Linked DNA regions of Homo sapiens. The protein of the gene in region 1 interacts with the protein of each later gene in a pairwise test. Each region holds a gene or a part of one and is shown in the gene's direction. Other genes may lie near its edges. The genes, in order: PRKRA, RIGI, EHHADH, ADARB1, STAU1, ZFP28 and PNPT1.

The links.
Region 2: the proteins of PRKRA (region 1) and RIGI interact in binary tests that used the Homo sapiens proteins (3 or more experiments, as listed by UniProt).
Region 3: the proteins of PRKRA (region 1) and EHHADH interact in binary tests that used the Homo sapiens proteins (3 or more experiments, as listed by UniProt).
Region 4: the proteins of PRKRA (region 1) and ADARB1 interact in binary tests that used the Homo sapiens proteins (3 or more experiments, as listed by UniProt).
Region 5: the proteins of PRKRA (region 1) and STAU1 interact in binary tests that used the Homo sapiens proteins (3 or more experiments, as listed by UniProt).
Region 6: the proteins of PRKRA (region 1) and ZFP28 interact in a two-hybrid assay, tested with the Homo sapiens proteins (one large-scale study listed by BioGRID and IntAct).
Region 7: the proteins of PRKRA (region 1) and PNPT1 interact in a two-hybrid assay, tested with the Homo sapiens proteins (one large-scale study listed by BioGRID).

The regions. Positions count from the first base shown.
Region 1 is NC_000002.12:178,441,176-178,444,675, reverse strand, and holds part of PRKRA (interferon-inducible double-stranded RNA-dependent protein kinase activator A), read left to right. Parts: intron 1-175; coding exon 176-254; intron 255-1,291; coding exon 1,292-1,409; intron 1,410-2,971; coding exon 2,972-3,066; intron 3,067-3,500. UniProt on the Homo sapiens protein: Activates EIF2AK2/PKR in the absence of double-stranded RNA (dsRNA), leading to phosphorylation of EIF2S1/EFI2-alpha and inhibition of translation and induction of apoptosis.
Region 2 is NC_000009.12:32,481,197-32,484,696, reverse strand, and holds part of RIGI (antiviral innate immune response receptor RIG-I), read left to right. Parts: exon of another isoform or gene 1-3,199; coding exon 3,200-3,357; exon of another isoform or gene 3,358-3,500.
Region 3 is NC_000003.12:185,192,587-185,195,049, reverse strand, and holds part of EHHADH (peroxisomal bifunctional enzyme), read left to right. Parts: intron 1-1,562; coding exon 1,563-2,463. UniProt on the Homo sapiens protein: Peroxisomal trifunctional enzyme possessing 2-enoyl-CoA hydratase, 3-hydroxyacyl-CoA dehydrogenase, and delta 3, delta 2-enoyl-CoA isomerase activities. Catalyzes two of the four reactions of the long chain fatty acids peroxisomal beta-oxidation pathway.
Region 4 is NC_000021.9:45,175,580-45,179,079, forward strand, and holds part of ADARB1 (double-stranded RNA-specific editase 1), read left to right. Parts: intron 1-150; coding exon 151-1,085; intron 1,086-3,500. UniProt on the Homo sapiens protein: Catalyzes the hydrolytic deamination of adenosine to inosine in double-stranded RNA (dsRNA) referred to as A-to-I RNA editing.
Region 5 is NC_000020.11:49,153,835-49,157,334, reverse strand, and holds part of STAU1 (double-stranded RNA-binding protein Staufen homolog 1), read left to right. Parts: intron 1-3,263; coding exon 3,264-3,402; intron 3,403-3,500. UniProt on the Homo sapiens protein: Binds double-stranded RNA (regardless of the sequence) and tubulin.
Region 6 is NC_000019.10:56,537,678-56,541,747, forward strand, and holds the start of ZFP28 (zinc finger protein 28 homolog), read left to right. Parts: upstream 1-1,270; 5' UTR 1,271-1,341; coding exon 1,342-1,549; intron 1,550-1,568; exon of another isoform or gene 1,569-1,843; intron 1,844-1,947; coding exon 1,948-2,039; intron 2,040-4,070. UniProt on the Homo sapiens protein: May be involved in transcriptional regulation. May have a role in embryonic development.
Region 7 is NC_000002.12:55,634,845-55,638,344, reverse strand, and holds part of PNPT1 (polyribonucleotide nucleotidyltransferase 1, mitochondrial precursor), read left to right. Parts: intron 1-745; coding exon 746-793; intron 794-1,952; coding exon 1,953-2,108; 3' UTR 2,109-3,500. UniProt on the Homo sapiens protein: RNA-binding protein implicated in numerous RNA metabolic processes. Catalyzes the phosphorolysis of single-stranded polyribonucleotides processively in the 3'-to-5' direction. Mitochondrial intermembrane factor with RNA-processing exoribonulease activity.

The DNA.
Region 1 (3,500 bases):
GATATATCTTGGATGACCGATCAGATTCCCATAGAAGAGGTCTGAGAAAAGGGCATTCCATGTAGAAGGAATGACAAGAGCAAAGACATAGAGAGTTAATTAGAAAATGCTTGTCATTTATTTCATAATTCGGGGGAAATTATTTTGTTTTATAACACTTTTAAAAAATATTTAGCTTTGCAGTTCCTGACCCCTTAATGCCTGACCCTTCCAAGCAACCAAAGAACCAGCTTAATCCTATTGGTTCATTACAGGTAAGTTGTACAGTTCTTTGCCTACTGATGAAATATATAATAAGTTTGTAATGTCAGAGGGGCTAACACAAGGAATTAATATTTTAAAGACAAGATAGTGATATATTTTGTTTTCCAACTTACGATCATTAGATTAACAGAGCTAACTTGAAATTATTTTCCTATTTATGTTCTGGGTTTTCTTTCATATACAGTATTTGCCTTTGGCTTATAGAATTCTCATTTAAGATCAACAGGCCCTCAGTGCACATGGGTAAAGTGTTTTATACTTTAAGAATAGTTCTTGCTACTCTTGTGACAAATCTCTTTCTACTTCTGTTGAGACAGAAGACTTTATAGAGAGCCTAAATCAAATCAGTGAACCTAACTGAAGAAAAGGAGTCTATTTGCTTATTCTACCAAAAAAAAAAAATTTTATCTATACACACACAAACACACACACATATATTCAGCTTTGAATTTCTATATGCAGAATATCCTTCTTGCAGATTATCCATGTGCTCTGTTAGGCCATTTCCCTCCCCATTATTCAGCCAGTCCTTTGGTCTCCTTTTCCTGCACAGTGAGCTTTTCTATAGTTTTCTTCACCTTCTGTCCCCCACTTTATGCAAGTCTGTTGTTTGCTGTCCCTACTCCTCATGTGTTCTTGGCCAGCTGTGGGTTTGGAAGTCTATAGCTAGGAGGGGAGGGACTTTAGGAACTGATGGCAGTGAAACCTGTAGATGGTCTCCTCTGGTGTTGCCAAAGAGGGCGGTAGTAGCCTGTTTTTCTAGTTGATGTCTGATACCAGCTCACTGTGGTTTAATGCAAGAACACCATTCGTAGCACAAAACTGCTTCAGTTTTGGTATTGGGGTATAAAAATATAAAATGCGGGAATGTCTTTGAGAAATAGAGGGTCTTCCCTCTTTTTTCTGTTGCAGAATATCACTATTCTTTTCAAACATATACATAGAAATGGGATCAAAATTAAGAAAACACTTATGTGATTGAGCCATTGCATAAAATTACTATTAAAGCCTCATCTTGATTTTATAGGAATTGGCTATTCATCATGGCTGGAGACTTCCTGAATATACCCTTTCCCAGGAGGGAGGACCTGCTCATAAGAGAGAATATACTACAATTTGCAGGCTAGAGTCATTTATGGAAACTGGTACTTATTTCTTACAATTAAAGGCATTTGAAATATTTTCAGATGATGAATGACTATCGAAATTTCTGTCGTAATGTTTTCAAATATTTCTATGCAGAAAAATTGATACACTCCTCTTTTATTGTCTCTGACTTTCTGAGGTTGAACTTAAGTATAAATATTTGGCTTAAGATACTTAGTCTTCTTAATTTGATATTTTTAAAAATCATAGATTATTAATAGAAAGACAAACTGTTGGCTCTGTACTTTAAACAGTCTTCATTGATAAATTACTGACTTAAAAAACCTCAATTTGGAGAAAAAGCTATAGTAAATCTCTTGGATTTTAACAGCTATTCTATCTAGAAAATAGGACTAGAGGAAGATTACACTTGAAAATTATATGATTAATAAGAGACTACATGGCAAATAATTGCAGTGAGATAAAAATGAAAATTATCTTTCTTAATTATAGCAACTTCTATGTTATAAAGGATATAAACTATAAGAAACGCTGTCACTTTAAAAAGTACTAGCGAGAATTCCTGTTAACTTCTCTGGCATGTTTTTGTTATTTTCAAAAGTGGCTTAAAATGGGATTTTAGCTTAGCTAGATAATAGTTTCAAGTAATAAGAAACTATTTGCCTTTGGGAGGTAGTGTGGCCAGTACAGAAAGCACCAGGCCAAAAGCAGGAACCTCAGCTTCCGTCCTTGATGCAGTCCTTGATTCGCGAAGTTAAGCAAATTACTTAATTTCTCTGGACCTCAGTTTTTTAATCTATAAAACAAAAGCATGGAGGTAGATATTTATGGTATCTTTCAACTCCACCATCCCCTGTGCCTTTCTTATTCCTGTTAAAAGGAATTTCATATAATCGTCAGTTTAGAGAAGATCATAAGCAGGAAATAGACATTGAGAGAGAGGAGTTATAATTCAGATGTATTTTAATAAATCTAAATAATTGGTCAGAATTAAACCAAATATGGTTCAGTAATGCTAGACATAGGAAAATACAATTATTATAGAAAAACAGAAAGCATAACTATTAAAGAAAAACTTAAAACAAATGTCTTCAAAAGTGTAAGAATTAGTAACTATACAGGCCTGGCACAGTGGCTCACACTGATAATCCCAGCCCTTTGGGAGGCTGAGGTGGGCCGATCATATGAGGTAAGGAGTTTGAGACCAGCCTGGCCAACATGGCAAAACCCTGTCTGTACTAAATACAAAAAATCAGCCAGGTGTGGTGGTGGGCACCTGTAATCCCATCTACTTGGGAGGCTGAAGCAGGAGAATTGCTTGAACCCAGGAGGCGGAGGTTGCAGTGAGCCAAGATGGTGCCACTGCACTCCAGCCTGGTGACAAAGTGAGGGTCCGTCTCAAAAAAAAAAAAAAAAAGAATTAATAGCTATACAAACAAAATAGCATAACAAACAAAGTTATCAGGTCAGTAAGAACATAGTCTAGTATATAATAAAAACCGTGAGGTTCTCTGATTAAACACAGTACTTCATACGTTTGATCATCCTCTGTGGACACTAATTTCTTTTCTAAATCTACCATTTCTTTTTCTTTGTTCAGGAAAGGGGGCATCAAAAAAGCAAGCCAAAAGGAATGCTGCTGAGAAATTTCTTGCCAAATTTAGTAATATTTCTCCAGAGAACCACATTTCTTTAGTGAGTAATGTTGACAGCTATGATGTTAATGTCATTAAGCATTTCTTGCAGTAGGAAACTTTCCTTGATTTCTTATTCTATAGCTACTTCAGAGTTGTGATTTTTAGAAATCTCTTCATTATTCAGTTATACCCTACCCCATTTTTAGCTGCTTCCTGTTTGTGAGTCAGGATCACAGAGGCAATTAGGTAAGAGAGCTTGGGAGACACAGTCAAATTCAGAATAATAGGACGGGATCTAAAGATGATAGGCCAGTAGTGCCATTTTTGCCTTCAAAGTGACAGCGCATTTCCATCCCTTTGTTTGTTCATTCATTCACTTAGCAAACATTTAGTGAGCTCATACTGTGTGCTAAGTGTTGTGTTGGGTACTGGGGTGCAGTGAATAAGCAGTCCCTGCCTCTAAGGAGTTTATAGACTACTGAAAGGAAGGAA
Region 2 (3,500 bases), on another chromosome or scaffold:
CTGATTAGTGACGTAATAAAGATACCAGTGAATGAGAAGGACCAAAGAGAGGCAGTAGAGATGGATTGGAGAAGGAAGGAGACACATGTGAGATGCTTCCAACTGTGAGTGTTATGATTGAATGGCTAAACGGATTTGGGTGGGGATGAGAAAGGGGCAGGAGGGGCTGATTTCCCCCCAGGCATCTGGCTTAGGCACCTCTATGAATGCCAGTGGGTGGTCCTGGTACCAGGACTAGAAGCAGCCTTGGCAGGTACAAGGTTTTGAGTTTTGAGTTTTAGGGATGTTAAATGTGACGTCTGTAAGACACCTCATGGAGTGTCTCCTCTCACACTTATTTTGCTTTTCTCTCCCCTTTTCTTTCACAGTTTAATTTCTATTATAATTGTTCTAACAGCCTTCTAGCTGATTTTGCCTACCTCTGCTCTCTCTTCCATTCAACCTCTCATGAACTAGTTAGTCTTCATGAATACATTTTATCATGTCCCTGTCCTGCTTAAAAACCCTTTGCCTACAGGATAATCTTCACGCCTCTAACCTGCAGTCTGAGCCCTGCCTGAACACCCAGGTTCTACTTATCTTTCCAATGTTATATTCTACTACTTCCCTACCTGAATCCTTTTGATTTAGCAGTTTCCCGAATGTGTTCATGCATATGTTCATTCATTTAGTGCTAAGGAATGGGCTAGGTGATGGGAATACAGCATGAACCCTAAGATACAGCCCCTGGCCTCAGGGCATTTCTAGTCTGATGGTAAGACCAAAATTAGAGAAGTAATACTAATACTAAAGCAGCTGGTGTGGTGGGGGTGATAAGGTGTGTTTCAGGCACAGGGAATAGCATATGCAAAGGCCAGGAGACTAGAAAGAGTATAGGGACTTCCATTAGTCCTGTAGAATGCTGAAAGGAGAGTGGCCAGAAATGAGAAGCAAAAGCAAGCAGAGGCCAGAGCATGGGGAGGAGTGTGTGAGCTGGGGCAGGATTTTGGCTGCAGGACCACTAAAGGCTTTTAAGCAGTGGGGTGGGATGATTTCTCATCTGCAATTTTGCAAACTCCCTCTAACCACTGGGTAGAGTATGGGTTAGAGGGAACAAGGCAAGAGGAAGGGAGACCAGTTTGGAGATTGTCATATTATCCAGCAGCACACTGATGTGGTTTGAATTGGGGAAGTAGCAGAAGGATGGAGAGACGGTGATGGAGTCACGTGAGTTTCTATTTTCTTACTCCTCCCACCTCCCGTACCCTGCCTCCACCTTTTTGCCAGTCCGAATCCAGTTAGCTGCTCATCTCTAAACTGCTTAGGCTATTTTTACACCTACCCAGGTTCAATCAGTACCTGTTGGCTCATCTTCTTTACTGCTGGCCACCTCGCTGTAGCTGCAACTTGGAAAGAAGCATGTCAATACTACTTGTTTGGGTAGCCTCCTTTGTTCCTATTATTGAAAATGAATGAGTGAGGGGAAGAATTTAACCCAGAAATACAGCTCTTGCTTGTGACTTTTGTTGTACTGTGCTCTTCATGAGGAGCCCTGGCGAACTGATACCAGAGTAACTCACAGACTCAGCTGCTTGAGAACACAGCCATAGTCTCCTCATCTTATCCCCAGCACCCTACACAGAGCCTGGACCACAGCAGATGCCCCAGCTTTGAACCAAGCAACTGAGGCTTATCCTAGGAGATGCACACAGACAGATGCATGTGTGATAAGTGTCTTTTGAGGGCCGATTCTATGCTTGGCCCTGAGAATGCTGCTCTGGAGAACAGGAGGCCCAAGTTCACAGCAAAGCAGAACATAGGGTGAACTGAGTCCTAAATCTCCTCCTTGATTTTTTTTTTTTTTAAGAGTCTCACTCTGTCGCCAGGCTGGAGTACAGTGACGTGATCTCGGTTCACTGCAACCTCCGTCTCCTGGGTTCAAGCGATTCTCCTGCCTCAGTCTCCTAAGTAGCTGGGACTTCAGGTGCGTGCCACCACCCCCAGCTAATTTTTGTATTTTTAGTAGAAACGGGGTTTCACCCTGTTGGCCAGGGTGATCTCAATCTCTTGACCTCGTGATCCACCCGCCTGGGGCTCCCAAAGTGCTGGGATTACAGGCATGAGCCACTGCGGCCGGCCAATCTCCTGCTTTTATATATCCTCCTCTGATGAAGCTCTTGAGACCTGTTATTTTTACTTCTTCATTTTTAAAGGCAAAGTTGGGTTTTTCATGTCTACTGTTTTATTTCTGGGCTGCTTTGGTTGTCAGCTCATAGAGCCAGTAGAGCTTGGGCATCTGACACATGTGGGTTTGAATTCCTGCCCTTTCTCCACGTACTTGCTGTGTGACTATGGGTAAATTACTTATTACTTGGCTTTTCTGAACTTCAGTTTCCCAATATATGAAATGTAATATGTATCTCATGGGTTGTGAAAATTAAATGAAATTATGAATGTAAGGTACTTTGATTCTTGGTACACAGTACTCAAGAAACAATCAAACACACACACACACACACACACACACACAAACAAACACACAGATGCACTGCTTAAAACTCAAGGGAGGGAACAAGGCAAGAGGTAGGGAGAACAGTTTGGAGGTTGTCATATTATCCAGCAGCACAGTGGTGTTATCTCAATGGGGGAAGGAGCAGAAGGATGGAGAGATGGTGATGGAGTCACATGAGTTTCTATTTTCTTACTCCTCCCACCTCAGGTACCCTGCTTCCACCTTTTCACCAGTCTGAATCCAGTTAAATAGTTTTAACTAGATGACTTAAGACTATTTCAGGAGGAATATCCTGTTTGCAGAGAGTAAGAAAGAAAATTAGGCCAGGTGCAGTGGCTCACGCCTGTAATCCCAGCACTTTGGGAGACCGAGGCAGGCGGATCACCTGAGGTCAGGAGTTTGAAACCAGCTTGACAACATGGTGAAACCCTGTCTCTACTAAAAATACAAAAATTAGCCAGGCGTGATGGCACACGCCTGTAGTCTCAGCTACTTAGCAGGCTGAGGCAGGAGAATCGCTTGAATCCGGGAGGTGGAGGTTGCGGTGAGCCAAGATCGTGCCATTGTACTACAGCCTGGGCATCAGAGCGAGACTCTGCCTCGAGGAAAAAAAAAAAGAAAAAGAAAATTAGAGGGTGAGGCCTGTTTATAACCCTAAATGACTGACCATATGAGACAGTGAAAAACTTTTTTTTTTTTTTTTAACAGAAAACTTATCTCAAATTCAAAATAGGGAATTTGGAACACAGAAATATGAACAATGGATTGTTACAGTTCAGAAAGCATGCATGGTGTTCCAGATGCCAGACAAAGATGAAGAGAGCAGGATTTGTAAAGCCCTGTTTTTATACACTTCACATTTGCGGGTACGTTCCTCTTTTTAAGAGTCGTATTCTGGTCACAGCACCTACTGGGAGTGGCACCGTGGAAGCCAAGATAACATCAACTTCTCATCCTGTCCTCAAGAGCTCACTTAGGAACCTTTCCAGAAAGTTCTTATGAAGCAAAC
Region 3 (2,463 bases), on another chromosome or scaffold:
GTCCAACTTCATTCTTTTGCATGTGGATATCCAGTTGTCCCAGCATCATTTGTTGAAAAGACTATACTTTCTCTGTTGAATGTTCTTGGCACTCTTGTTAAAAATCAATTGGCCATAATTGTGTGGGTTTGCTTTTGGCTATCAGTTCTATTCTGCTAATCTATATGTCTATCCTTTTGCAATGACCACTATCTTACACTGTCTTAAATACTATAGGCTTCTTTTTTTTTTTTTTTTTTTTTTTTTTTTGAGACAGGGTCTCACTCTGTCACATAGGCTGGAGTGCAGTAGTGTGATCATAGCTCACTGCAATCCTCAAACTCCTGGGCTCAAGATATCCTCCTGCTTCAGCTTCCCAAATAGCTGTGACTATAGGCATGCACCATCATGCCTGGCTAATTTTTGTTGTTGTTGTTGTTGTTGTTGTTGTTGTTGTTGTTACAGAGTTTCAATCTTGTTGCCCAGGCTGGAGTGCAATGGTGCGATCTTGGCTCACTGCAACCTCTGCCACCTGGGTTCAAGTGATTCTCCTGCCTCAGCCTCCCAAGTAGTGGGGATTACAGGCATGCACCACCACACCCAGCTGATTTTGTATTTTTAGTAGAGACGGGTTTTCTCCATGTTGGTCAGGCTGGTCTTGAAATCCTGACCTCAGGTGATCTGCCCACCTCGGCCTCCCAGAGTGCTGGGATTACAAGTGTGAGCCATTGCACCTGGCCCCCTGGCTAATTTTTAATTTTTTATAGAGTTGGAGTCTCACTGTGTTGCCTGGGCTGGTCTCAAACTCCTGGTTCCAAGTGATCCTCTCACCTTGGCCTCCCAAAGTGCTGGGATTACAGGCACGAGCCACCTCACCCAACCTTGAATAGTTTTGTCATACAATTTGAAATTGGGAAGAGTGAATCCTCCAACTTTGTTCTTTTTCAGTATTGTTTTGGCTCTTCTGGATTTCTTGCATTTCTATGTGAATTTTAGGATCAGCTTATTGATTCTGCAAAAAACCAGCTGGGATTTTTATAGGAATTGTGTTGGTTCTTCACATCAATTTGGGTAGTATTACCACCTTAACAATATTAAGTTGTCTGATACAAAAACATTTAATGTTTTTCCATTTATTTGGTCTTACTTAATTTCTATTAACAATGTTTTGTACTTTTTAGTGTACAAATCCTCCTATTCTTTGTTAAATTTCTTCCTGTGTATTATTCTTTTTGATGCTATTGTAAGTAGAATTGTTTCTTTTAATTTTATATTCAGATTGTTTATTTCTAATATATAGAAATATACTTGATTTTTGTATATCAATTGTGTACCTACAATCTCGTTGGACTCATTTATTAGTTTGTATAGCTTCTATTTGTGTGTGTGAATCTGACTAATTTTTATATCCTCTGAAACACTTAAGAGAGTGCAGAGTCTTAACTAGTACTCAATCCATTTGTGTTTCTTGACTCAATCTCTTTAAATGCCACATTGTCACATAAGCCTTCCATCCAGTGAATAATTTATCAGTTCCCAATACCACTGAATCATTCTTTTTCTCCTTTGATTTTTATCTGCAGGCTTGGGAACAATGGGCCGAGGCATTGTCATTTCTTTTGCAAGGGCCAGGATTCCTGTGATTGCTGTAGACTCGGACAAAAACCAGCTAGCAACTGCAAACAAGATGATAACCTCTGTCTTGGAAAAAGAAGCCTCCAAAATGCAACAGAGCGGCCACCCTTGGTCAGGACCAAAACCCAGGTTAACTTCATCTGTGAAGGAGCTTGGTGGTGTAGATTTAGTCATTGAAGCAGTATTTGAGGAAATGAGCCTGAAGAAGCAGGTCTTTGCTGAACTCTCAGCTGTGTGCAAACCAGAAGCATTTTTGTGCACTAATACTTCAGCCCTGGATGTTGATGAGATTGCTTCTTCCACTGATCGTCCTCACTTGGTCATTGGCACCCACTTCTTTTCGCCAGCTCATGTCATGAAGTTGTTAGAGGTTATTCCCAGCCAATACTCTTCCCCCACTACCATTGCCACTGTTATGAACTTATCAAAAAAGATTAAAAAGATTGGAGTCGTTGTAGGCAACTGTTTTGGATTTGTGGGGAATCGAATGTTGAATCCTTACTACAATCAGGCATATTTCTTGTTAGAAGAAGGCAGCAAACCAGAGGAGGTAGATCAGGTGCTGGAAGAGTTTGGTTTTAAAATGGGACCTTTTAGAGTGTCTGATCTTGCTGGGTTGGATGTGGGCTGGAAATCTAGAAAGGGGCAAGGTCTTACTGGACCTACATTGCTTCCAGGAACTCCTGCCCGAAAAAGGGGTAATAGGAGGTACTGCCCAATTCCTGATGTGCTCTGTGAATTAGGACGATTTGGCCAGAAGACAGGTAAGGGTTGGTATCAATATGACAAGCCATTGGGTAGGATTCACAAACCTGATCCCTGGCTTTCCAAATTCCTATCACGGTATAG
Region 4 (3,500 bases), on another chromosome or scaffold:
GTATAACTCTTCATGTATACATCAAGGAATAAAATTTATAAGCACACATCACTTAACCAGTTACAAAGAGAGCTAAAGGAATCTATAAATTTTGCATTTACAAGATCCTGCAACGAAGGCATTGTAAGTTACTCTTTCTGGGCACCACAGGTTCCAGCAGCACTGATGTGAAGGAAAACCGCAATCTGGACAACGTGTCCCCCAAGGATGGCAGCACACCTGGGCCTGGCGAGGGCTCTCAGCTCTCCAATGGGGGTGGTGGTGGCCCCGGCAGAAAGCGGCCCCTGGAGGAGGGCAGCAATGGCCACTCCAAGTACCGCCTGAAGAAAAGGAGGAAAACACCAGGGCCCGTCCTCCCCAAGAACGCCCTGATGCAGCTGAATGAGATCAAGCCTGGTTTGCAGTACACACTCCTGTCCCAGACTGGGCCCGTGCACGCGCCTTTGTTTGTCATGTCTGTGGAGGTGAATGGCCAGGTTTTTGAGGGCTCTGGTCCCACAAAGAAAAAGGCAAAACTCCATGCTGCTGAGAAGGCCTTGAGGTCTTTCGTTCAGTTTCCTAATGCCTCTGAGGCCCACCTGGCCATGGGGAGGACCCTGTCTGTCAACACGGACTTCACATCTGACCAGGCCGACTTCCCTGACACGCTCTTCAATGGTTTTGAAACTCCTGACAAGGCGGAGCCTCCCTTTTACGTGGGCTCCAATGGGGATGACTCCTTCAGTTCCAGCGGGGACCTCAGCTTGTCTGCTTCCCCGGTGCCTGCCAGCCTAGCCCAGCCTCCTCTCCCTGTCTTACCACCATTCCCACCCCCGAGTGGGAAGAATCCCGTGATGATCTTGAACGAACTGCGCCCAGGACTCAAGTATGACTTCCTCTCCGAGAGCGGGGAGAGCCATGCCAAGAGCTTCGTCATGTCTGTGGTCGTGGATGGTCAGTTCTTTGAAGGCTCGGGGAGAAACAAGAAGCTTGCCAAGGCCCGGGCTGCGCAGTCTGCCCTGGCCGCCATTTTTAACTTGCACTTGGATCAGACGCCATCTCGCCAGCCTATTCCCAGTGAGGGTCTTCAGCTGCATTTACCGCAGGTGAGGAACTATGCTGCTGCTTTAAAACACGGGGTCATTGCTCTTGGTAATGCTTCTAGACAGCATTTTAGTTTCAGGATTACTGTTGACTTTCCACCTTGACATCACTCTGTCCCCACCAGGAGGAGTTACTGGTAAGTCTGGCTGCTTGATTTCCATGGCCATGTGGCCACTGAGAAGCCGTCTGCATCCTAGTGCATGCTGGGTCTGTCGCAATGCAAGGCAGGGACACCTGAGACCCCGTCCACCAGAGCAGTGTTTACAACACTATCCATAACTCCCTTCCCGTTAGGCAACCCCCCCCATGACCCTCATCCCACAGCAAGCCTTTAGCAGGAGAGACGGAAGAAGAGCCCAGTCTTTGAAACCTTGCCCCCAGTTCAGCACCATTTTCCTTCAAAGGTCTCATCCAAGAATCTCACATTCAAGATAAGTGACACCAGCCCGTCAGCAGCTGAAAACCCAAGTCTGGGTCAAGATGGCAGCCTCTGGGCTCCCACATGACTGGCTGGTGGCTGTTTGCTGTTCCTAAGCCGAGGAGCCCATCAAAGCAGCGAATGAGCCAGCACAGCAGTGAGCACCTATCAGAGCGCAGGGAGGGAGGGGCCTCCAACAACTGTTCTAGGGCCTGCCAGTTGCCTGGGAGTCTCTACTTTGAATTTCCTACATGGGCTGTATGAGGACTTCCCCGCATGCCCAGGCTGGAGGTGGACAGCCACCCTTCCATTTGACCTCCCCAGCGCAGTGAAATCAGGATGAAGGAAGGGGAAGTTCCAGGGTGGGCTTAGATTGGCTTACGTGAAAGAGAAAAAGTAAAGGAGAAAATCACCTTTAGTTCTCATCTCTAAATCCTAAAACTCTCTGATTATGTATTCCTTCTTTTCTTGGAAATCCAAAGTTCTTCTGGTCTATTGCAAAAGTTATTTTTTTGACCCTCTATTCATTTATTACTTTGTATCAGAGTCTTCTTCACTTTGAAGATAACATGTATACTACCCTTGACCACAAGACTTGAAGGTGGCTTGTGTTCCCCTGGAAGAATCCAAGTGTCTTATAGTTTCTTTTTTGCTGTTGGCTACAATTAGAACAACCTCTGTGCAGTTGTAGTCTGAGATGACCAGGAGTTCTGTTTTAAAGGAAGGAAATGTATTTTATTTTGCCTAAAGGAATCAAATGCAACATCAGTATAAAATAATATATTCAAGGTATTTCACTGATTTTTTTAACGAACCAAATACTTGCTTCCCTTATTAACCTCTCGTCAACATTGTTTATAAGGATTATTAGTCCATTTGTACTTTAACAAATCAGTGCTACTAGATCCCATGTGATTTTTTATTTTCAGGATTACTCTTTGCTAAAATATTAAAGCCTGAGTTCAAAATATTGTCTGATGTGACTTGTCTTCCCTTAATATTGACAGAGTGGCATATAAGACCATTGAAATGACATCAAATGCCGTGGATCCCAGATGTCTGAACCTTCAGTGTGTAGGCTAGGAGCACCTTAGGCGGACGCAGATCGAAGTGCCAGTAGAGATGTCACCCCTGCCTCCCTGGCTTGGCTGTGCGCCTGCAGTGACTTCTGTGTGGAGCATGACCAGAGCCCCTGGCTTGGGAAGGCTGGAGGGACATCTGTTGGGCTCCAGCCTGGGGAGGGGTGCAGGTGGGCAGGGCTGCCTCAGCCCCCTGACGCCACGTTCCTCTGGGCTCTGTAGGTGCTGAACACCAGGCTCTAGGCCTCATGTCCAGAACCACTAGGGCATGAGGGGATGGAGCTGCACTTCGAGTCTCTGCCGGAGTGGAACCTGCCACCTTGTGTCTTTGGAGCCCCCAGGATAGCCCCGGAATGTGACGTGTTCCTTGTAGGACCCGGGTGGCCCTCCCAGAAGCAGTCCTTAGGGCTTTGTTGGTGGGCTCTATTGTCCTTCAACAGGAAATTTCCAAATGTGCATTCTAGGATGGGTGGAAAACCCTCACTCTTTTTCTAGAGTAACCCTTGAAGGACGTAGGTCAGTCATCCCTGCGTGTCACTGCAGGTAAATGGTGCTGCCTGGGACTGTGTGGCATGGGTTTAACTCTTAAGAGCATTTTTTTTGTTCTTATATCTGTCCCCCAAATTAAGAGGGAAGTCCTTCATTAACCATACAGGTTAATGAGACCAGTAATCCCCTCAACGGGGTGCTGAGCCCTGGCCATGTGCCTCAGATGTCTGCGTTAACAAGCATCAGCCCCAGCACCAGACCTTCAGAGTGAGGCTCTCGGAACTCACTCTGAAGTTAAAGTTCTTCGCCTCTCTTTGAAAGTTTGGAGATTCGCCTAATCTTATATGAAATGGAAACTTTTATTTCCTCTGGCTTATCCCTAATCTTCTTATGACTTTTTCTTCTCTGTAAACTCGAATGAATCGCCCTTT
Region 5 (3,500 bases), on another chromosome or scaffold:
AAACTGAAAAAAAGGGTGGTTATGTTTTCAAACAAGAGCCCACAAACACATTGCAGCATCAAAACAAACATTGTCTTAATTTGTGTGAAGTACTGCTGTGTGTTTAAATCAAGTTTGCAAAATATCTTTCATGAGAAGTAATTGGAAGAGAATTTTGAGGCTGGACGTGGTGGGTCATGCCTGTAATCCCAGCACTTTGGGAGACTGAGGCAGGTGGATCACTTGAGGTCAGGAGTTCGAGACCAGCCTGGCCAACATGGTGAAACCCTGTCTCTACTAAAAGTACAGAAATTAGCCGGGCATGGTGGCAGGTGCCTGTAATCCCAGCTACTCGGGAGACTGAGGCAGGAGAATTTCTTGAACCCAGGAGGTGGAGGTTGCATTGAGCCAAGATCACACCACTGCACTCTAACCTGGGGACAGAGTGAGACTGTGTCTCTTAAAAAAAAAAAAAAATTTCAGTGCATACACACACAATCTCTTTTTTTTGTTGTTGTTTATAAAAAACAACAAAAAAGGATAAGAAGGGGATGACAGGATGAATTATCAAGATAAGACCAGGCCTCTTAAACCATGACCATAGAAAGTGTTCAAGGTTCAAGTGACATATTACAGTCAATGTCAGGTTTCATGAATTTGAGAGCTCACACTTTTCATTTCTAGGAATTTACAGTACTGCTGACACTTGGAAATCAGCAATGGGGAGCTGAGTGAACTGGTATTAAAAAGGTCAAACACACAGCTGCTGCTAAAGCTTTGGAGGGAACAAAATTTCCTAAGCCCATAGTCAGCCCTTTTGGTAGCGAAGGAAGGAATCCAGGTCTTATGCATGGGCCAAACAGGTACCTTTCAAAAGTGTGTCTAGAGGTACCATGTAGTATGTATATGAATGGTTTCTTAACTTGTTGATTTTGAAAGCACAGATTCTACACTACCAGTGACAAATGCTTATTTTTTAGGAATCCTTAACCTCATTGTAAAGCAGTGGTTTCCAATCTATGATGCCTTAACGCCTGACAATCTGGAAAGGCGGTCATAGGAAGGATGGCGGGTGACCAGATAATTTCAAAGATTTCCGAAGTTTAATGAAAATATATTTTTGATAAGAGTGTATAGATTAGCAAGAATATAAGTTTAATTTAGAGTCACATCAAGTCAGTGTGGTAATATTGATTGTAATTTTGTTGGTCAGAAGTGCTTATTGCCAGTTGTATGTCTCTTAGTTATTAAAAAGAATGAGAAAAATGTAAATATTACTTAAATACAAGCCAGCAGGTAGTATCTCCTCAGACAAGGAGCCCATTCAGGGAGCATACTAATCAAGAAGGCATGGCTGGTGAAGGGTTGGGGATCAGTGACCTGGAGGCTGTGTCATTAATGGCTGTTTTAGCAGAGACCCCCTCACATGCATGAAGTCATCCCAGGTCTTCGTATGTAGGAAGGAATCTGGGAAGTTACCAGTCACATCTTTCTTGTTACTTTTGATTTCTTTGCAGTATACTTTCTTCATGTTTATTCTCTATTGCAGACAAATTCTGTGGATCAGAGCTGCTCTTAAAATGATTCAGACTGTACTTAAAATGCAATTATATGAATTTTGTAAAAAATATAATTCTAATGCAAGGAAGAGAGAGATCTGTAATTCATGTGGCCCTCTGTGCAAACCCCAAAGATATTCTTATAGATTTGATTCATGCATTAAATTTAGTTGAACCAGTTATAGTACAGAATCAGGTCTTTTTTATTTCTCTCTATATACATCCTAAAGAGGCATTTTAAAGTGGATTTTTATGTGCATTTAGATTTTGCCATTTCTAGTGTTCTGTTTTTGATATGAAAGTGTTGTTTTTAAATATTGTGCACTGACACTAATCTTTCCAGGCTGGTTTTCTTTTTAAATGGTTTTTAAAGGTTTATGGATTGGATGAACTGAAAGAAAAAAAAATTGGAAAATGAATAGCATGTATTTTCTGAAGTTGATAATTTTGAGATAACTTGTTGTGTATGAAAATGGAACTCATTTTCGTAGCAAGTATGACCACAGGTCAAATTCATTAGAAATGTCAAGAATGGAAATACCTGAATATTTTGTGGGCCTTGTGTGACTTCTGTGAAGAGAATTGGGTTGCCACCTCCTCACTGATTTTTCACCTTTAAGTTGCACATCATGTTGTATTGTAACTCTTTGAGTGTGCTTTGTGTTTTTTGAACTCCTCTGGGGCAGGAATTGTGTTTCTTTTTTTTTTTTAAGACAGAGTTTTGCTCTTGTTTCCTCATCTGGAGTACAGTGACGCAATCTCGACTCACTGCAACCTCTGCTTCCTGGGTTCAGGCGATTCTCCTGCCTCAGCCTCCTGAGTAGATGGGATTACAGGCATGCGCCACCATGCCTGGCTAATTTTTTGTATTTTTAGTAGAAACGGGGTTTCACCGTGTTAGCCAGGCTGGTCTCGAACTCCTGACCTCAGGTGATCCACCCGCCTCGGCCTTCCAAAGTGCTGGGATTACAGGTGTGAGCCACCCTCACTGCAAGGTCCGCCTCCCAGGTTCACACCATTCTTCTGCCTCAGCCTCCTGAGTAGCTGGGACTGCAGGCACCCGCCACCATGCCTGGCTAATTTTTTGTATTTTTTAGTAGAGATAGGGTTTCACCATGTTAGCCAAGATGGTCTCGATACCCTGACCTTGTGATCCTCCTGCCTTGGCCTCCCAAAGTGCTGGGATTACAGGCGTGAGCCACCACGCCTGGCCAGGAATTGTGTTTCTTAAGCTTAGCACAGTGCTTTGCATCCAGTTAGTAATGTAATAAATGCATCGTTCAATACTGTGTACGGACATACTTCTGAGTGCAAGCCAATAATCCTGTAAATCAGTACAACCAAGGTTATATTGATTAAGTATTCTCAAACAGTAAAACAATTTGGACATTTACATGGGATTTTTTAATCGTGAAATTTGATGTGTTTTGGAACTTATTTCTGACAGCTGTACCATATAGCTTTCACTGATAATGTCTTGGGTTAAATTGTGGCTCCTCTGGTAACCCTCAGAGTAGATTTTGTGCTGTCGACTGTGTATAAATATCTAGAAATCACAGCATATTCTTGGATTTCCTTGTCTGATGCCTAGCAGTGAGCCACCCAGGTCCTTTTATGTAAAGTATCATGAATCCAATTAGCAGAAAGCATGCTATTACATTTTATTTTAGTGAGTATCATTCTCATACCAGAAAAAAACAGTTCTTTGTCGATTCTTTCTTGCAGAAAGCATAACCCCTACTGTAGAACTAAATGCACTGTGCATGAAACTTGGAAAAAAACCAATGTATAAGCCTGTTGACCCTTACTCTCGGATGCAGTCCACCTATAACTACAACATGAGAGGAGGTGCTTATCCCCCGAGGTATGTGTTTTTTTTTTTTTTTTTTTGTAAAATACAGGAGAAAACGTGTCTGATCTTTTACATAAACCAGTACCTCTAGATTGTGGAGGGAGTAATGA
Region 6 (4,070 bases), on another chromosome or scaffold:
CAGTCACCCTTGGATTCAGAGATAGAAGTCATCTTAATTCCATCACTGAGGCCAGGAGACCTGAAAGAAATCAATTCAAGAGTAAGGAGACCAGGCGTGCAGTGTGACTGGGCGTGCAGAGGTCAGTGCATCTGTGATGACTGGTGTAACAGCATCACTGCCTGTGAGCCAGCAAGGCCCTTGGCTCCCAGGATGAAGCTCTCCAGTTCTGATAAGGCCCCTGGGGGAGAGACCGGTCCTAAACATGTTCAAGAATAAATCCATCAGCTAACTTCAGACCGTGATTCACACAGGAAGGGAACTTTAAGAGGTCGCCAGGGCTGGTATTTTTGAGACGTTAGGCAGCCCTCTCTGAGGCGATGACAAGTGAATGGCATAAAGGAGCCAGCCCAGACGAAAATTTGGGGTTAGACTATTTCGACCCAGGACGTGCAAATACATAGGTTACAAAATGGAAAATGGTATTTTGGAGGATGGGAGGCCCGTGTAGCCAGAGATAATGGGAGAAGGTGAGGGGGCACCCAAAACAATCCCACAAGCTCTCTACATCCCCCTTCCTAGCCCACACACATCACCCATCAGAGTGATCCTCCGGACTCCGGAGGCCCCCAAGATTGCCTTTCCCTTCCCGGTCGGCAGTGACGCTCCCGCAAGGAGCTGACGCCCAGGCCCTTAGCACCTGTCACAGCCAAGCACCCTTTTACTCCGGCCCTGCGGTCCCACCCCTCGCCGCAAGCCCCGCCTCACCCGGTCTGCCGCTGCGCCTGCGCGACTCCCAGAAGCCTTTGGGGGGTGGGTGTGTAGTCAGAGCGGCCTCTGCTTCCGGCCACACCCAGGCCCAGCGTTGGCCACCACTTATGCGGCGGCTGCGGTCCAGGGACAAGTGAGAGCGACCCGCAGAGGGCAGGACGGACGGGCGTTGCATAGGCCCGGGGCCAAACCGTATCTTGCAACCTGAGCTCCGAGGGCCGCCGCATCCGTCCCTGCTTGGGACTACGCTTCCCAGCGGGCATTGCGCCGAGGCCACGCCCGGTTCCGGCGGCGCTGCCTGCGCACTGGAAGTGGGAAGCGCCGGGCTTCTCTAGGCTGAGGGGCGGGGCGGGGCGGGGCGGGGCGGGGCGGGGCGGGGCGGGGCGGGGCGGGGCGGGGCGGGGCAGCGGGGAGGGGTGGGGAGGGGCGGGGCGCGGCCGGGGGCGGGGCGGCTCCGCGGCGCGGCCCAGTGGATGCCGGGCCATGGGGGAGCGCGCGCGGGGCTGTTCGCTGGGCGTGGCGGGCGGGTGTGGCCAGGGGTGTGGGTCTGTGAGGGACCGGTCGGAAGGGCGTCGCGCGGCCTCGGGTGACATGCGGGGGGCGGCGAGCGCGAGTGTCCGCGAGCCGACGCCGCTCCCGGGTAGAGGCGCCCCCCGCACAAAGCCCCGGGCGGGCCGAGGCCCGACTGTAGGGACTCCAGCCACCTTGGCCCTCCCTGCCCGGGGAAGGCCGCGCTCAAGGAATGGCCTCGCATCCAAAGGCCAGCGAGGAGCGGCCCCTACGGGGCCTGGGCACAGAGGTGAGAGTGACAGGTGTTTGGGGCCGAGCGGACAGGGACGAATTCATCTCGGGATGAGATCTGGGAGGGGGTTGGGCTCTCGGGGACCAGTTGCTGGAGAACTGTGCCCCTGGTCTTTGAAGCTGGTGGAGTGGGAGAATCTGAAGATTTGGAAGCTCAACTGATTCAGAGCAGCAAGCCGCGGTAAAAGGGTGTTGACTTTCCCAGGGTGACTCTAACTAGACGCTTTTCCTGTTTTCGTGCTCCCAGGGAGGAAAAAAACCTATCTCCACGTTGTGGCAGTCCCTAGGCAGGGTAATGATCTGATCCCACCTTTTCATGCAGGAAGGGACGTTTCTAGGCTGGTGATTTGGGACTGTGGTGTAGACCTGGTCTCTAGCTACTCCTTTCTCTTTCAGCTCTGCCTTCCAGGGACACTGCTCTTCCCCAGGAGAGAAACAAGAAGCTGGAGGCTGTGGGGACAGGAATTGAACCTAAAGCCATGTCCCAGGTGAGTTGGCATTTCATCTCTTGTCTCTGAAATGCAGTCTTGCTTTTCGGGACTTAATGTTGCTTATTTTCTTGAAAGTTTTCAGTTTAAGAGACCTGTTTGGGCGCGGGTTTCTATTTCTTCACGTTCTAGTGAAGTGATGGGCTACGGGGAAAAGTTTAAACTGCCCGGGGCCTCGATGCCTGCTTCTTCTTCATCCCAATCAGCCTTCATTCTTGATTGATGAAATGATTCAGCCTCTCCCTTGTACCGCTTTTCTCAGAGGGACTCTGATGGAGGAATTGTGCCCCTTGAGGAACACGGCAGACTCTTCTGCTATACATGGTTTGTTTGGTGACCACTTTGTGCCAGCCACTGAGCAAACCAATAGCTAAGCCCTAGTCCCTGCTCTGGAGCTCACAGCCTGTTGACCCAATGTCAAGGAAACAAGCAAGATTCTAGAATGTGATCATCCTTGGGCCAAGTATTATGAGCGAGGACTACAAGGCGCTCCTGGCTTCCAGCCTCCTGTAGCGGAAGGGTAGGCCTATTTACCAAGGAGGTGATTTTTGAGCCTTGCCTTGAAGGGAGAGAAGATGTTTGGGAGGCACAGTAAAGAAAGACAACATTTTAGGGAGAGGAGGCGCAATATGAAAGGCTTTTCCACTTGATTTTGTGGCTTTAAAACATGCCAGTAAATAGTTGTGTTTGTTTCGGTTGGCTTCTCCTATAAATATCATAGCTAGCTCATTAATAGATGAACCATTTCACTTCCACTGAGGCCTCAAAAAATATATGTACAGATGAACCAGCTTCCAGTTGTCCTACCCAAACTGCTCTTGAGTGGGTTACTGTGATCTTCACATTACCAGATGCAGTGCTCAATTCTTAGTCTTTTTTGACTATCATTGGTATTTGAAATAGCTCAGAGGCTGGCAAACTTGTGCTGGATGAGGCCACAGCAGAAAATATGTTAGGCTTTGAAAGTCCTGCTGCATCTACTCCTTTCTGCTCTTATAGAGCTAAAGTAGCCAAAGACAATATGTAAATGAATGGATGGGCTGTGTTCCAGTAAAACTTCAGTTACAAAACAGGTGGCTACCTATCCCTCAAATAGCTCATCCCTGTCCTTCAATAGGCCCCCTTTTTTCCCTTGGCTACTGGGATCTCACACTCATCTGACTTTCATCTTCCTGACTGCTCAGTTTTTGCCACAGTTCTTACCTCCGTGACTTGAACAGAGTGTGCCTCAGCACTCTGCTCATGGCCCTTTCTTTTTTTGTCTGCATGCTGTCTCCTGGGGATAGTAGCCTGTTCCTTGTCTGTACAACCTACCCACATGGTGGCTCCTCCCAGATTCACATTGTGAGCCCAAACCTCTCCTCTGAGCCGCCGGCCTGTGTATCCTGCTCCACTCCTCTGCCTGAGTGTCTGATGGGTAACTCAAGACAGCCTGTCCAGACCCGAAGTCCTGAGAGTCTCCCATAAACCAGCTCCTCCCACAGTTTGAGTCTTAGTCAGTGGCCGTTTCATCCTCTCAGTTACTCAGTCCGGAAGCCTTGTCATGATTGGCTCATTTCTTGCCTTTTCCTTCCATATTTGGTCCTGATGCAAATCCTGTCAGTTCTATTTGCAAATTATGTGCAGAATCTGGCAGTTTTCATCACATCTATCACCAGCAGCAGGTCCAAGTCCTCCTTTTACTGTGGGCTTCTTGACTGTGCTTCTGTGACCTCCTGCTTCTGCTCACGCTCCCCACAGCCCCTTCCCGATGAGCAGCCAGAGGGGTCTATTCAAACATGTCACCTTGTGTCACGCTGTGCTCAGGACCCTCCAGTGGTTTCTCTGAATAAAAGCCAAAACTCTTCCTGTTACTGACCAGGCCCTACATGACCTGGCTCCTTGTTACCCCTGACATCTACATCACTCTCTTCTTTCTGAAAAATCGCCTTCTCATTTTCCTGCTCACCCTGTCTAGAATTTCAGAGCCTCCTACCTGTTCTTCACATCCCTCTTCCCTGCTTTGCTTTTTTCTTTTAGTACTTTTCTTTT
Region 7 (3,500 bases), about 120 Mb from region 1:
TATTTTAAATCTTTATAATTAACTGATTTTTTTTTTTTTTTCTGAGACAGAGTCTGACTCTGTCGCCCAGGCTGGAATGCAGTGGCATAATCTCAGCTTACTGCAACCTCTGCCTCCCAGATTCAGGCAATTCTCCTGCCTCAGCCTCCCAAGTAGCTGGGACTACAGGCGTGTGCCACGACACCCAGCTAGTTTTTGTATTTTTAGTAGAGATAGGGTTTCACCATGTTGGTCAGACTGGTTTCGAACTCCGGAGCTCAAGTGATCTGCCTGCCCCAGCCTCCCAAAGTTCTGGGATTACAGCCGTGAGCCACCATGCCCAGCTGATTTTTTTTTTTTTTTTTTGAGACGGATTCTCTCTCTGTCACCCAGGCTGGAGTGCAATGGCGTGGTCTCGGCTCACTGCAAGCTCCACCTCCTGGGTTCACGCCATTCTCCTGCCTCAGCCTCCTGAGTAGCTGGGACTACAGGCGCCCGCCACCATGCCCGGCTAATTTTTTGCATTTTTAGCAGAGATGGGGTTTCACTCTCCTGACCTCCAGAGATGGTCTCAATCTCCTGACCTCTTGATCTGCCCGCTTCTGCCTCCCAAAGTGCTGGAATTACAGGCTTGAGCCACTGCGCCCAGCCGCTAACTGATTTTTTTAATCAGAAAAACTAATAAAGCTTGAGGAAAAAATGTGTACTTCCATGGACACTACATAATTATGCACAACAACTAATAGATTAACATTTTTTTTTCCAGATTAAACATCCTACTGCCCTAGGATTAGAAGTTGGCCAAGAAATTCAGGTATTTGTATTCCACCTTTTAGCCTTGAAGTTGTAAATTGTTCTTGAAGCTTCCATTGTTTTTTTCAAAAAGTTGAAAGAAGAGTCACCATCTATGAAGTTTTTTATTTGTATGCAGTACTTCATTTTTAATCTTAGAATTGCTTGAACAGACTCATTAAGGATTTAAGACACAATTCTTTCCCTCAAGGAGCTTGCAGCTTGGCCAAAATGGTAGTCACCCTTAGTTCGTTTAAAAAATACATGAGCATGTTAGTGTTAGCTATGCAGACTCCATGATTTGGGCACTGACGTAAGAACTGTGATAAGGTAACTTGTTAAAGTCTTTGAATGTCATCTTTGAGGAGGTGAGACTTTGTTTCTCCACTACTTAAAGTTTTTGAGCTTGGTAAGAGCCATGTTATTCAGGCCTAGAATTCATATAACAAAATTGGCCCTTTCTTTGTAGTCCTTTATGAGTGGATGAAAGAAGTCATTGCCAGTCTGTTTTTTCGGGCTCCACCACATTGTCTTTCACTTACGCTAATACGCATGACCTGAGTAACTAAGGCTTCTGGTTTATTCCCAATGTGTAGTCTTATTGTCCAAGTAGCCTCCAGGGGAAGATGAGTGCTAAGATATAGTATCTCTGTATAAGGTTGATTTTTTGGTTTATTTGTTGTTGTTGTTGTTGTTGTTGTTTTCACATCAGAAGGAACTTTAAACCTTTGCATTTGCCCCTGACTTTCATTTTCCAAGGTGAAGCCAAATAAACACTAATGTGTTGGTCCTTTGAGCAGTAGTGAAAATCCAAGTGACCTAAGCATAATCCTCTATAGTATATAACACAATTAGGCTCTCAAAGCCCTTGTCTAGGATCATTCACTATGCCTGTGACTGTTCCCCCAGTATAAGGACTTGGCCTGGTGAGAATAAAAAGGCACAGATGAGTTCAGCGGCAGATTATAGTTGAACAACTAACTGCCCCGTCTCTTTTCTCTTTTATAATGACTACTTATATGTGTTAAGTGTATACGTCCACTTAGCACTGAACAATGCTTTCAGTGAACAAGTAAAAACAATCATTGCCTTATTTGGACCATGTAAATTTAAATGTCTATTAGTTTAGATGTCACTCAATGTGCTGTAACTTTAAAGGAAGATCTGTTTCTTTAACACAGGTGAAATACTTTGGACGTGACCCAGCCGATGGAAGAATGAGGCTTTCTCGAAAAGTGCTTCAGTCGCCAGCTACAACCGTGGTCAGAACTTTGAATGACAGAAGTAGTATTGTAATGGGAGAACCTATTTCACAGTCATCATCTAATTCTCAGTGATTTTTTTTTTTAAAGAGAATTCTAGAATTCTATTTTGTCTAGGGTGATGTGCTGTAGAGCAACATTTTAGTAGTATCTTCCATTGTGTAGATTTCTATATAATATAAATACATTTTAATTATTTGTACTAAAATGCTCATTTACATGTGCCATTTTTTTAATTCGAGTAACCCATATTTGTTTAATTGTATTTACATTATAAATCAAGAAATATTTATTATTAAAAGTAAGTCATTTATACATCTTAGAAAAAATTACATAGTTTTGTTTTTACAATTCTGAAATATATGAAAAACTTAGATAGAATATGTCATATGTTATTATAACAGATCTCTTCCTACATCTTATTTTTCTTCTTTGTATACAGTAGTGACAGTTTACCTTCAGTCATCCTACAGGTCACCTCTGTGCCCAACAACTTTACTTGCCTACAACGGTTCACAAACTGGAACAGGCCATATTCAAAGCCAGTGCCTATTTCTTCAGAACTGTTAACAGATATAGTGAGTTGAGGGAGCTAATCTGATACACTTTTGATAATATAATGCCTTTCAAATTAGTTACCAAATCATAAACAGAGTGGAATAAATATAAATGAGATTCTAACTAGGATGAATGTGGTAGTAATGATGTATATTTTTCAAATTTACCTAAACAGAAAGATTATTGGCTAAGGCAGGCGGATCATGAGATCAGGAGATCGAGACCATCCTGGCTAACACGGTGAAACCCCGTCTCTACTAAAAGTGCAAAAATTAGCCGGGCGTGGTGGCGCATGCCTGTAATCCTAGCTACTCAGGAGGCTGAGGCAGAAGAATCACTTCAACCCAGGAGGTGGAGGTTGTAGTGAGCCGAGATTGCGCCATTGCACTCCAGCTCAGGCAACAAGAGCAAAACTCCGTCTCAAAAAAAAAAAAAAAATTGTTTACTTATCAAATTGAACTAGGTCAATTTGAATATGTGTATTGCTCTAATGTATGGAAGTTCTTAGTATAAGAGCTGAAGGATCATGACTTTCGGTTAATAGATGTTTGAAATAGATGTTTAGAGGTTACTGATACACATGTCAAGTTGTTCATTCCCATCATTTAAAATATCACCTTATAATTCCACAGAAAAGTAAATGGTATGTGGACGTCATAATTTAGAATGTGTAATCTTTTTTAAAATCTTATAAAAATACACTGGACTCAGTGGTACGTGCCTGTAGTCCCAGCTACTTGGAAGGCTGAAGTGGGAAGGTCACTAGAGCCCAGAAGTTCGACACTGTAGTGTGCAACAATCATACCTGTGAATAGCTACTGTACTCCAGCCTGGGCAACATAGCAGGACTCTTATCTCTAAAAAAAATTTTAAATCTTATAAAAATGTAGGTATATCTGGCCAGGCATG